Regions from separate parts of the Homo sapiens genome. Here region 2 is linked to region 1. A link means that fine-mapping ties the variant in region 1 to the expression of a gene that starts in the linked region. Tissue or cell type: tibial artery. Region 1 holds a variant in brackets; the other region holds the start of a gene. All regions are shown on one strand. Distances are between the middles of the regions.

The links. PIP is the estimated chance that this variant, and not a neighbour inherited with it, causes the effect.
Region 2: it holds the start of DECR2, and the variant in region 1 is fine-mapped to the expression of DECR2 in tibial artery (GTEx, PIP above 0.99).

The regions. Positions count from the first base shown.
Region 1 is chr16:294,137-301,653 of GRCh38, reverse strand. AXIN1 (axin 1) reads left to right here. Exons shown (of 11, transcript NM_003502.4): 6 at 3,403-3,932; 7 at 4,428-4,598. Among named protein-coding and RNA genes, the nearest start is that of PDIA2, 15 kb to the right of the region's middle. The variant G/A (reference allele first, on the strand shown) is at 4,591.
Region 2 is chr16:398,787-404,678 of GRCh38, reverse strand. DECR2 (2,4-dienoyl-CoA reductase 2) reads right to left here and starts at 2,794. Exons shown (of 9, transcript NM_020664.4): 1 at 2,636-2,794. The coding sequence starts at 2,715. NME4 (NME/NM23 nucleoside diphosphate kinase 4) reads right to left here. Exons shown (of 5, transcript NM_005009.3): 2 at 5,556-5,689; 3 at 5,199-5,300; 4 at 4,940-5,052; 5 at 3,925-4,460. The coding sequence ends at 4,337. RefSeq lists enhancers at 3,229-3,814, 3,662-3,971, 4,985-5,570.

The DNA.
Region 1 (7,517 bases):
AGACATTTTTTAAAAAAAATATTTTTGTAGAGATGGAATCTTGCTATATTACCCACACTGGTCTTGAACTCCTGGCCTCAAGTGATCCTCCTACCTCAGCTTCCCGAAGTGCTGGGATTTCAGGCACGAGCCACCGTGCCTGGCCTTAAGCAAGACATGTTAAAGGCAGGCGTAGCCACAGGTGCTGAGTGTGTGGCTCTCACCTGTGACTCTCAAGGCTTCCCCACCCCATGGAGTCCTGGCTCTGTCCCAGCAACAGGGAGCATGGCAGTGCCCACAGGTGTGTGGATCCAGCACCACCAGGGCCCAGGAGTGGTGGTCCTTCCCTAAAAGGAATAACTCCAGTTTTTTTTTTTTTTTTGCTTTGTTTTGTTTTGTTTTTTGAGGCAGAGTCTCGCTCTGTCGCCCAGGCTGGAGTGCAGTGGCACGATCTCAGCTCACTGCAAGCTCTGCCTCCCGGGTTCACGCCATTCTCCTGCCTCAGCCTCCCCAGTAGCTGGGACTACAGGCGCCCACCATCACGCCCGGCTAATTTTTTTGTATTTTTAGTAGAGACGGGGTTTCACCATGTTAGCCAGGATGGTCTCGATCTCCCGACCTTGTGATCCACCCGCCTCGGCCTCCCAAAGTGCTGGGATTACAGGCGTGAACTCCAGATTTTTTAAATAACCTATTTTCATTGTGAAATTTGGGAAATTAAAGCACAAAGAAGAAAACAAAAACCATTAGCCGAGTGGTTAAGTTAATCTGTAACATTTCACAGCCCCATGATAGAATTCCTGCCGATGTGGAGCTCGGCCAAGGCAGTGAACGGCATCAAAACTCCAAACACTTTTAGTCCCTAGGAAGACCCTCGGTTAAGATTTCTCCCCAGAGTGCCCGGGCCCTTTAGTCCTACAAAACCAAGGAAAGGGAGGCAGCATAGCTGCATCCGCCAGGGGATGCCCACCACCCACCTGTCCCCCGGCTCTGCTCCAGCATCCGTCTGTCCTCTTTAGTGCCATATTTCACCCTCAGCCCCAGTGCAGGTGCCCGCAGCCAAGCCCACACCAGCTCTGGGGCACGCCTGTTCCAGTTGCATTTGGATACTTTTGCAGGTGTGAGAGTTGGGTGCTAAACGTTGGGAGGTTTGTTTATATTAAAATATAGAGGTAGGTGGGGCACAGTGGCTCACATCTGTAATCCCAACACTTTGAGAGGCCAAGACAGAAGGATCACTTGAGGCCAGGAATTTAAGAGCAGGTTGGACAACATAGTGAGATTCCCCATCTCTACAAAAAAAAAAGAAAAAGAAAAAATTAATGGGACATGGTGGCATGCACCTGTAGTCCCAGCTACTTGGCAGGCTGAAGCAGGAGGATCGCTTGACCCCTGGAGGTTGAGGCTGCCTTGAGCTGTGATGGCACCACTGCGATTAGGTGTGGTGGCTCACACCTGTAATCCTAGCACTTTGGGAGGCCAAGGTGGGTGGATCACCTGAGGTCAGGAGTTCGAGACCAGCCTGGCAAACAGGGTGAAACCCAGTCTCTACTAAAAATACAAAAAATTTAGCTGGGCATGGTGGTGGGTGCCTGTAATCCCAGCTACCCGGGAGGCTGAGGCAGGAGAATTACTTGAACCCGGGAGGCGGAGATTGCACTACAGCCTGGGACACAAGAGTGAAACTCCGTCTCAAAAAAAAATTAAATAAATAAAAATAGGCCGGGCACGGTGGCTCACACTTGTAATCCCAGCACTTTGGGAGGCCGAGGTGGGCAGATCACGAGGTCGGGAGATCGAGACCATCCTGGCTAACACGGTGAAACTCCATCTCTACTAAAAATATAAAAAATTAGCCGGGCGTGGTGGCGGGCACCTGTAGTCCCAGCTACTGGGCAGGCTGAGGCAGGAGAATGGTGTGAACCCGGGAGACGGAGGTTGCAGTGAGCCGAGATCGTGCCACTGCACTCCAGCCTGGGTGACAGAGCGAGACTCTGTCTCAAAAAAATGAAAATAAATAGGCCGGTTGTGGTGGCTCACTCCTGTAATCCCAGCACTTTGGGAGGCCGAGGGTGGTGGATTACCTGAGGTTAGGAGTTTGAGACCAGCCTGGCCAACATGGTGAAACCCCGTCTCTACTAAAAATACAAAAAAATTAGGCAGGCATGGTGGCACACTCCTATAATCCCAGCTACTCGGTAGGCTGAGGCAGGAGGATTGCTTGAGCCCGGGAGGTGGAGGTTGCAGTGAGCCAAGATCGTGCCACTGCACTCCAGCCTGGCTGACAGAGCGACTCTGACTCTAAATAAATAAATACATACATAGATACATGGTAACTTAGTTCCCTCTCTTTCTTTTGTATTGACACCAGATTTACTCAATACTGTTTTAGTTTGTCAGTCCAATAAGATGAGAAAATAAGTATGAGATGCAACTTGGAATTAAAGTGATCAAATGTTTGCTCTGACAGATAAGCTTCAGCACCTGTTAACTTGGAGAATCAAGTGAAACTCCACCGGCTTCATGTGGAAGCTCGTCAGGCAGCATCACAACATGTACATAACCCAAGAGCCGTTCTGTACAAGGTTCTCCTTAAAATATAATGGGAGGCCGGGCGCGGCGGCTCATGCCTGTCATCCCAACACTTTGGGAGGCCGAGGTGGGTGGATCATGAGGTCAGGAGTTCGAGACCAGCCTGGCCAACATAGTGAAATCCTGTCTCTACTAAAAATACAAAAATTAGCTGGGTGTGGTGGCGCACACCTGTAGTCTCAGCTACTTGGGAGGCTGAAGGAGGAGAATCACTTGAACCCAGGAGGCAGAGGTTGCAGGGAGCCGAGATGGCACCATTGCACTCCAGCCTGGGTAACAGAGCAAGACTCTGTCTCAAAAAATATATATATATACAGGCCAAGGCAGGCAGATTGCTTGAGCTCAGGCATTCGAGACCAGCCTGGCCAATATGGTGAGAATCGCATCTGTCCCCAAAGTACAAAAAAATTAGCTGGGCGTGGTGGCACACGGCTGTGGTCTCCGCTATTCTGGAGGCTGAGGTGGGAGGATCGCTTGAGCCTAGGAGGCGGAGGCTGCAGTGAGCTGAGATCACACCACTGTTCTCCAGCCTGGGCAACAGAGCAAGAACTTGTCTCAAAAAAAGAATAAAACTAAACTAAATCTGTGCAGAGCTCTGCCCACAGCCGATACATACGCTGCATTCCTTGAGGCCTTGCTGTCTCCGCTCCTTCTGTCTATGCCCCGTCCTGCCTCTCCATCCTCAGGGACAGGACCGGTGGCGAGGGGCCCCCGGCCACCCTGGGCTGGGACGGCATCTGCTGGGGCTGCTGGGTCAGGCCTGATGCTTTTTGTTTTCCCCAAGTGTGCAGCTGGTGCTGAGAGGTGATGGTGCTGCTTGTCCCCACACAGGAGGAGGAAGGTGAGGACGGCGATCCATCGTCAGGGCCCCCAGGGCCGTGTCACAAGCTGCCTCCCGCCCCCGCTTGGCACCACTTCCCGCCCCGCTGTGTGGACATGGGCTGTGCCGGGCTCCGGGATGCACACGAGGAGAACCCTGAGAGCATCCTGGACGAGCACGTACAGCGTGTGCTGAGGACACCTGGCCGCCAGTCGCCTGGGCCTGGCCATCGCTCCCCGGACAGTGGGCACGTGGCCAAGATGCCAGTGGCACTGGGGGGTGCCGCCTCGGGGCACGGGAAGCACGTACCCAAGTCAGGGGCGAAGCTGGACGCGGCCGGCCTGCACCACCACCGACACGTCCACCACCACGTCCACCACAGCACAGCCCGGCCCAAGGAGCAGGTGGAGGCCGAGGCCACCCGCAGGGCCCAGAGCAGCTTCGCCTGGGGCCTGGAACCACACAGCCATGGGGCAAGGTCCCGAGGCTACTCAGAGAGTGTTGGCGCTGCCCCCAACGCCAGTGATGGCCTCGCCCACAGGTGAGCGTGCGCCTGTCAGTGAGGAGGGGGCTTGGGGTGAGGCTGTGTCCCTGCAGAAGGCCAGAACCTCCTCATAAAACTCAGGAAACCCAGGACCGCCAGCAACAGGCAGGAGGCCCCTCTGCTGGAGGGAGTGGACTGGGCCCTGGGTCAGGGGAGTCCACGCCGTGACCTCAGGTGGGAGATGAAGGTTAGGGGACACAGCCCGACCCTGGCTCCCGCTCTGGCCCTCAGTCTTCAGGGGGTGAGCAGTGACTGCCTGTGTGTTTAGAGAGGAAACCAACCCCCAGACAGCACCAGGACAGCGGGCAGGGGACAGCGGGTGGGGGACAAGCTGGCGGGGGACAGCGGGTGGGGGACAAGCGGGCAGGGGACAGCGGGCGGCGGCTGCACCACGGGAGCCTTACAGATGCCAGGAGGGGGCCTCGCAGACGAGGAAGGGGCACAGCCTCGGCCACCGGAGGCCAGGGCGACTCGCAGCTCTTGCCCTTGCAGTGGGAAGGTGGGCGTGGCGTGCAAAAGAAATGCCAAGAAGGCTGAGTCGGGGAAGAGCGCCAGCACCGAGGTGCCAGGTGCCTCGGAGGATGCGGAGAAGAACCAGAAAATCATGCAGTGGATCATTGAGGGGGAAAAGGAGATCAGCAGGCACCGCAGGACC[G/A]GCCACGGGTGAGCACCCCGCACGCAGCCAGCCTCGTGGGGCCTGCTTTGCCACCCCTGGCCTCCGCACAGTCTCAGTGTGTGCAGCTTCAGTGTGTGTGGCGAGTGTCGCCTGTGACGCCTCACACTTCCCCTGTCACTGTGGCACCCTCCCGGGCACCCTCCAGCAGGCTCCCTGGGCCCCACGTCTCCAGGAGGAAAACCTCATGTCCCCAGAGAGAGGCTGTCCCTGAAGCCCCGAGCAGGAGGGAAGCTGACGTGGCTGTCACCCCGCAGGCAGCACAGATGCTCTCGGGAGGTCATTTCCAGTCTGACCCCCACATGAGAATGACCTAAGTCACCTGGGAAGGCCCCCACTGACCATCACTCCCGAGGTGCCCACGGAGGAGCCTTCTGTGCTCACACCTGGCCGTCCTGCTGAGGGCTGGGGAAGGCTCTTGTGTAGCGTGAGCACTTCTCTCCTCCCAGAAGGGCAGAGGCCTCGTGTGTGGTGTGGAGCAAGGCCCCGGCGCCACAGGTCCAGCCCCTGCCGCTGCCCGCCGGGCCGGTCTTGGTGTTGCTCCTGCTCGCCCCCTGGGCCTGCACTCGTGCCCGGAACCCAGCAGGAGGGCCAGGGGCCCCACAGAGGTGGTACCCCCCACCTTCCTGTCGTGGTCAGAGGCAGGTCAGCTGGGAAGTGTTGGCCCTGGTGGGTGGATGGCCCCAGCTTCCTCAGACTTAGGTCCTGATCTGCCCCCCACCCTCACCCAGGCCCTGGCCAGGACGCATCTCCCTCCACATTACTTGATGAGAACTTGTGAGGCAGCTGAGCGCCTGGGGCGTGGCCCTCCTGCCTGTGTTGGAAGCCTGTCCCGCAAGGCCTTGGGGTCCCCATCGGTGCTGACTGAGGTGGGGACGGGCTCATCGTTTTTCTGGGGCTCCCGAGGGAACAGGGGTGCACAGCACCTTGCCTGGCTCATTTTTTGTAGAGGGGGTCTCAGTGTGTTGCCCAGCTGGGTCTCAAGCTTTTGGGCTCAAGTGATCCTCCCACCTTGGCCTCCCAAAATGCTGGGACTACAGGCATGAGCCACCATTCCTGGCCTTCGAGTCTTTTTTTTTGAGACGGAGTCTAGCTCTGTCGCCCGGGCTGGAGTGCAGTGGTGCAATCTTGGCTAACTGCAACCTCCACCTCCTGGGTTCAAGCAATTCTCCTGCCTCAGCCTCCCGAGTAGCTGGGATTACAGGCGTGAGCCACCACGCCCGGCTGATTTTTGTATTTTTAGTAGAGACCGGGGCAGGGGGTGGTTGCCATGTTAGGCTGATCTCGAACTCCCAACCTTTGGTGATCCGCCTGCCTCGGCCTCCTGGAGTGCTAGGATTACAGGCGTGAGCCACCGTGCCCGGCCGAATCCTTTTTTTAAATAGCTGTATATACTAAATATTGCATGTCCCATATTTTAGGATAAGTATTAATACATTCCACTTTGAGACATACTTATACTTTTTATTCATTAAGACTTTTTTTTTAATTTTTTGCGACAGAGTCTCCCTCTGTCACCCTGGCTGAAGTGCAGTGGTGTAATCACACCGTTCACTGCAGTCTCAGCCTCCTGGACTCAAAGCTATCCGCCGGCCTCTAGGATTAGTATATAATTTGTATCCCAGTAAAGCTGTTAAAAATAAAATGTAAAAAAAGAAGCCTCATCCCAGCACTTTGGGAGGCCGAGGCAGGTGGATCGCTTGAGGTCCGGAGTTCGAGACCAGACTGGCCAACATGACAAAAACTCCATCTCTACTAAAAAAAATACAAAAAATTAGCCGTGTGTGGTGGCGAGTGCCAGTAATCCCAGCTACTCGGTGGCTGAGGCAGGAGAGTCGCTTGAACCTGGGAGGCGGAGATTGCAGTGAGCCGAGATCCGAGGTCGAGCCATTGCACTGCAGCCTGGGCAACAAGAGCAAAACTCTGTCTCAAAAAAAGAAAAAAAAAAAGTCTCCATGAAAGAATTTTTTTTTTTTTTTTTTGAGACGGAGTCTTGCTCTGTTGCCCAGGCTGGAGTGCAGTGGCCTGATCTCAGCTCACTGCAAGCCTCGCCTCCCGGGTTCATGCCATTCTCCTGCCTCAGCCTCAAGAGCAGCTGGGACTGCAGGCGCCCGCCACCACGCCCGGCTAATTTTTTGTATTTTTTTAGTAGAGGTGGGGTTTCACCGTGTTAGCCAGGACGGTCTCGATCTCTTGACCTCGTGATCCGCCCTCCTCAGCCTCCCAAAGTGCTGGGATTACAGGCGTGAGCCACCGCGCCTGGCCTTTTTTTTTTTTTTTTTTTTTTTTTGAGATGGGGTTTCGCTCCTGTGGCTCAGGCTGGAGTGCAACAGGCCAGTGTCAACGCACTGCAACCTCCACCTCCCAGGTTCAAGTGGTTCTCCTGTCTAACCCACCTGAGTAGCTGGGATTACAGGCACCCACTATTATGCCCAGTTAACTTTTTGTATTTTTGTAGAAACAGGGTTTCACCATGTTGGCCAGGCTGGTCTTGAACTCCTGACCTCAGATGATCCACCCGCCTCGGCCTCCCAGCGTGCTGGGATTACCGCGCCTGGCCATTTTTTTTTTTTTTTTTTTTTTTTGAGATGGAGTCTCACTCTTGCCTAGGCTGGAGTGCAGTGGTGCAATCTCAGCTCACCGCAACCTCTGCCTCCCAGGTTCAAGCGATTCTCCTGCCTCAGCCTCCCGAGTAACTAGAATTACTGGTATCCACCACCACACTTGGGTAATTTTTTGTATTTTTTGAGTAGAGTCATGGTTTTGCCATGTTGGCCAGGCTGTTCTTGAACTCCTGACCTCAGGCGATCCACCCACCTTGGCCTCCCAGAGTATTGGGATTACAGGCAAATGAGGGTTGGTTTTTTGTTGTCTTTTTTATTCCTGAGACTGAGCCTCACTCTGTCACC
Region 2 (5,892 bases), 100 kb before region 1:
CAGCCTGGGCAAAAGAGCAAGACTCCGTCTCAAAAAATATGTATAAATAAAATAAAATAAAAATAAATAAAAAATAAAAGAGCCCTGTTAAAATACACCTCCCATATTGCTATACGGCAATGATTTAAAATGAAAATTCGGCCAGGTGCCTTGGCTCACACCTCTAATCACAGCACTTTAGGAGGCCAAGGCGGGCGGATCACCTGAGGTCGGGAGTTCGAGACCAGCCTGACCAACATGGAGAAACCCCGTCTCTACTAAAAATATAAAAAATTAGCCGGGTGTGGTGGTGCATGCCTGTAATCCCAGCTACTTGGGAGGCTGAGGCAGGAGAATCACTTGAACCCAGGAGGCGGAGGTTGTGGTGAGCCAAAATTGCGCCATTGCACTCCAGCCTGGGCAACAAGAGCGAAACATGGTCTTAAAAAATAAATAAATAAATAAAATGAAAATTCATAAAATTATAGTATTTTATTTAATTTATTTATTTATTTTTTATTTTTTTTGAGATGGAGTCTCGCTCTGTCGCCCAGGCTGGAGTGCAGTGGCATGATCTAGGCTCACTGCAAACTCCTCCTCCCAGGTTCACACCATTCTCCTGCCTCAGCCTCCAGAGTAGCTGGGACTACAGGCACCTGCCACCACGCCCAGCTAATTTTTTGTATTTTTAGTAGAGATGAGGTTTCACCGTGTTAGCCAGGATGGTCTCGATCTCCTGACCTTGTGATCCACCCACCTCGGCCTCCCAAAGTGCTGGGATTACAGGCATGAGCCACCACACCGGGCCTATTTATTTATTTTGAGACAGGTTCTTGCTACGTCATCCAGGTTGGAGTGCAGTGGCACCATCACGGCTCACTGCCGCCTTGACCTCTTGGGCTAGAAGGATCCTCCTGCTTCAGCCTCCCCAGTAGCTGGGACTACAGGTGCATGCCAGAGTGCCCAGCTAATTTTTCATCTAGTTTTTCTAGAGAGGGGTATCGTTTTGTTGCTCAGGCTGGTCCTGAACTTGTGCTGACACAAACTTGCAAAGTGCAGTGGGGGAAAGGGTATTTCTGTGTCTTTTGACAGAAATGGACAGAAGTAGATACAAGAGAGAAAAATACCCTGGCTTAAACAAGATAGAGGTTATAATTTCCTCTCTCCTAAGCCCTGCATGGCACTAATATCAAATATGATACCTGAGATTCAGCAAGCTACGTCGGGATAATATGGCTTTTTTATTTATTAGAGATTTTCTTGTACGCATTAAATGTGTACTGATCGGTATGACTGGCACAAACTGTACCAGATGGATGGCAAACTTTTGCTGATCTCCAAGTTGCCTTTCCTATTCTTAATTATTAAAGATTAATTTTGGGCCAGGTGCAGCGTCTCACTCCTGTCATCCCAGCACTTTGGGAGGCCGAGGCAGGTGGATCATCTGAGGTCAGGAGTTCCAGACCAGCCTGACCAACATGGTGACACTCACCTCTACTAGAAATACAATTAGCCCAGCGTGGTATTGTGTGCCTATAGTCCCACTTGGGCGCACTGAGGCTGAAGCAGGAGAATTGGGAGGCTGAGGCAGGAGAATTGCTTCAACCCAGAATGAGACTCCGTTTCGAAAAAAAACTTTTTTTTTTTCCTGCAGAACACTCAGAGAGAATTGTCAATACCTGTCCTTGGAGAACATAATTTAAAACTTGTTTTCTTTTTTTGAGATGGAGTTTCACTCTTGTTGCCCAGTGCAATGGTGCGATCTCGGCTCACTGCAACCTCCACCTCCCGAGTTCAAGTGATTCTCCTGCCTCAGCCTCCCAAGTAGTTGGGATTACAGGTGTGCGCCACCACACCCGGCTAATTTTTTGTATTTTTAGCAGAGACGGGGTTTCACCATGTTGGCCAGGCTGGTCTCGAACTCCTGACCTCTGGTGATCTACCCGCTTCGGCCTCCCAAAGAGCTGGGATTACAGGCGTGAGCCACTGCTCCTGGCAAAAGATCAAAATTTTAATAGAAACTTGAAAATGTTGCCAATTGAAAAAAAGAAAAGGAAAAAAAAAAAAGGATCCGCCCATTAGCCGAGTGAGGGCAGGTGACCGGGGAGGATCGACCTTTGCCCGGGCTGCCTTCTCTTGTGAACACCAAGGCGTTTGCAGGAAAATGAAGAGCTGCTGGGCAAAACCTGGCATTCCTGGGCCTTCTGGGTCTTCCGGAAAAATGATTTCAACCTAAAATTTTCTGTTAAGAAAGAGGCCAGGTTGGGCCGGGCGCGGTGGCTCACGCCTGTAAATCCCAGCACTTTGGGAAGCCGAGGCGGGTGGATCACCTGAGGTCAGGAGTTCGAAAAGAGCCTGACCAACACGGTGACACCCCCTCTCTACTAAAAATAAAAATTAGCCGGGCTGAGGCAGGAGAATCGCTTGAACCCGGGAGGCAGAGTTTGCAGTGAGCGGAGATCGTGCCACTGCACTCCAGCCTGGGCGACACAGCGAGATTCCGTCTCAAAAAAAAAAAAAGAAAGAAAAAAGAAAGAAAGGAGCCAGGCAAGACAGGTTTCCTAACACGCGAGCCCTCGGGGACCACGTGGGGGCGCCGGCGCCCGCGGACCGGACCCCGCACCAAGGCTGCGCTCGCTTCCCAGGCCCCGCTCACCGCAGCAGGTCCGGGCAGAAGAGGTGGCGGTACGCGGGGAGACAGTCGTCCCCCTCCACGTCGGGCGGCGGCTGGGCCATGGCGCTCCCGTCGGGGACTGCGGGGACAACGGGCGGGAGCGGCCTCGGCCTCCAGGACCCGGCGCGCAGCTGCGAACTCGCCTGGAACCGGGAGCCCCGCCCCACTCCCCGGACGCCCCGCCCCTGCCCTGATTGCTTCCCGGAGGCCCCGCCCCTCCCCCGAATTCTCCCCGGAGGCCCCGCCCCCGCCCGCGGCCTGCTGGGACTGGAAGTCGGCGCGCGAGGCGCAGGCGCATTGCGGGGCCGGGGGCGCGGTTCCCGCGGCAGAAGCTCGGCGGTCTGCGGGTCTCCTCCCCGAGTCTTTTTCACAGGTATTCGGCGTCAGCGCCGCGTTCAGAGCCTCCAGGACTTGTGGGATACCCCTGGCTCCTGGGTCCAGGCCAGGCTCGCAGCCTCTGGGCTCCCCGTTCGCCTCCCCGTAAACACCATGGGGAGGGCCGGGGCCCAGGGAAGCGCGGCCAGCCCCGCGCCGCTTCCCAAAATGACCCGTTTTGAGGCCAATAAAGAAGGGTCCGGGGCCGGGCGCGGTGGCTCACGCCTGTAATCCCAACACTTTGGGAGGCCGAGGCGGGCGGATCACGAGGTCAGGAGTTCGAGACCATCCTGGACAACATGGCGAAACCCCCTCTTTACTAAAAATACAAAAATTAGCCGGGCATTGTGGCGGGTGCCTGTAGTTCCATCTACTCGGGAGGCTGAGGCAGGAGAATCGCTTGAACCCGGGAGGCGGAGGTTGCAGTGAGCCGAGATCGCGCCACTGCACTCTATCCTGGGCGACAGAGCGACACTCCGTTTCAAAAACAAAAACAAAAAAAAAAGGGTCCGTTACTTCTGTTCCGCGTGGGGGCCCGGGCGGGGCTATGCCGCGAACCCAGGACGGGGCGCCCCGCCCGCACCACTGTTGGAAGACGGGGGTCCGCGACGGCCACGGGGGAAAAACACGCAGGGCCGCTCCTGAGCTGAACACACCCGCGGGCCAGCGGCTTCAGGGGCGTGACAGAGCCGCCAGCGCTACAGTAATGGCTGCCAGGCCCTTTCTGCGCTGGTTGGCCTCAGCCCGCCGGCCCCTCTCTGCCCCTTCCCCGGGAAGGCAGCTTCTCCTTTGGCGGGATCACAGCACCGGCTCGCGCCTAGCTTGGGTTCTCCGGATTGCAGGCTGGTGGTCTCTGGACCCCTGCCTGGCTCATACATCCAACAACGTTATGGAACTGGGTGTGCAAAACTTCCTCTTTACTGTTCAACTCCTTACAACTTGCATAAAGGCGTCATTTCTACCTCAGAGCTGGGGGAAGTCATAATTAGTGTACCACCCATGTGCTGGGCACAGTGAATTTTAATGCCTCCCCTTTAGAGGAGAGGTTATGATAATGTGAAGACCCCCCCCCACCACAAAGGTTGTCCGGCACTTTGGTGCAAAAAGGATTGGTCCAATCTTGTGCTGGCTTGGGGTACAGAAAGGCACTGAAGTTGGTGGCTCAAACTCCTCTGGGCTGGGGTGGGGCAGAGGTGAACAGGGAAGTAAGTGGTTTGGGACAGGCAGGTTTGGATGTGGGCTTGGGTTCTTGCTGACGGAGGTAGTTGGTCCTGCGTGGGGGATGGGGTGGTAAGGGCAGCTTGAGCCTCAGGCTGGGTGGATGCTGCTGTGCTGGCCCCCGTCTGCCCAGCTCACCAGCTCACTGCTCTGGAACCACAGCTGGATCTCCCGCTGGGCCCCCTCCACGGAGTCGCTGGCGTGGATGACATTCCTGTGCCAGGACAGGAGCAATGTGAGGCTCAGGCTTCATGTGCACCCTGAGGAATCCCAGGGACCATCTGCTGCTCCCGTTGCCCTCTGTCTAGGGGAGCAAGCCTGTGACTGCAGACAGGGAAGGAGTAACAGTGGAGCTGGGAAACCGGGTTCCAGCCTGGCCTCGGCCTCTTACAGCCTCGTGGACCCGCCCAGGCCCCAGCTTTTGGGAGCCTCATTTCCCCCCAAGTTGCCCCGTGCCAACCCCTTGGGGTGTCAGGTAACAGGCAACGATGGCACGGTACACACAACACAAAGGGAACACCTCATTGCCCTGTGTGCCCTGGGAGAACACGGCTCTCACCAGTGTGAGCTGTCATGTCCGACCTGGCTTCATCCTAGCACAGCAAGACAGCCAGGTCTCGTGGATCTGCCACCACCCCAAGTGATGGCCCTCCTTGCCCCCAGCAGCAGCCTGGTGTATCAGGACCCCCGTACCTGCTGATGTGGACGCTGAAGTCACCCCTTATGGTTCCTGGGGCAGCCTCAGCCGAGTCGGTGTGTCCAATCATGGCCCTCGAGGCGCGGACGACATTGTACCCTTCCCAGACCTGCAGCGAGAGATAATGGTTGGGGAGAAGTGGGGAACACCAAGGGCCCCTGGGCTCAATCCAGGGCCCCTCCCTTTGCTGGGGGGAAAGACACACCCACACGCCCTTTACCCACAGGCCCTTCCACCACCCCTGCCCTGCCGTACCATGGCCACCACAGGCCCAGAGCTCATGTAGCGGATGAGGGCAGGGTAGAAGGGCTTCCTCCGCAGGTCCTGGTAGTGCTCGGCAAGGACGCTCTCTGGTGCCTGGGTGGCATTGAGGTAAGGAGGAGCCGCAGACAGTAAACGTGGGCACTAGCACAGCAGCTGTGATGCCCTGACCTCAGGCACCTTGCAGATAACACCAGCATGGGCAGCACCCCCACCGCAGAATAGATCCCTCCTGCCCCTTCAACTGCCAAAGCCAGGCCCTGCCCCGGCGCTGGCTGGGATGTGAAAGGCCGAGAAGGATCCCCCAACCCCATCCCCACAGGGACACCCACAAGCCCAGAGTCCCACTACCTGCAGCATCTTCATCCCCACCAGCGTGAAGCCCCGCCTCTCAAAGCGCTGGATCACGTCCCCAACGAGCCGCCGTTGCACGCCATCGGGCTTCACCGCCACCAGGGTCCGCTCCCGGGTCCAGGAGGGCCCTCCTTCAAAAGGCAAGAGGTCAGAGGCACTGCCACCTCACCCTTTCACGTCCCCACGACCCGGGTTTCCCAGCCAGAGCCCAGGGGTCACCAGGCTTCAGGGTGTCTGCCTCTATGCAGGGCACTCTGGAAGGGACAGGGATGGTGCCCACAGCCACAAACACCCCCATGATAGTCCCTGTCAGGGACACCCAAGGCAATGTGTC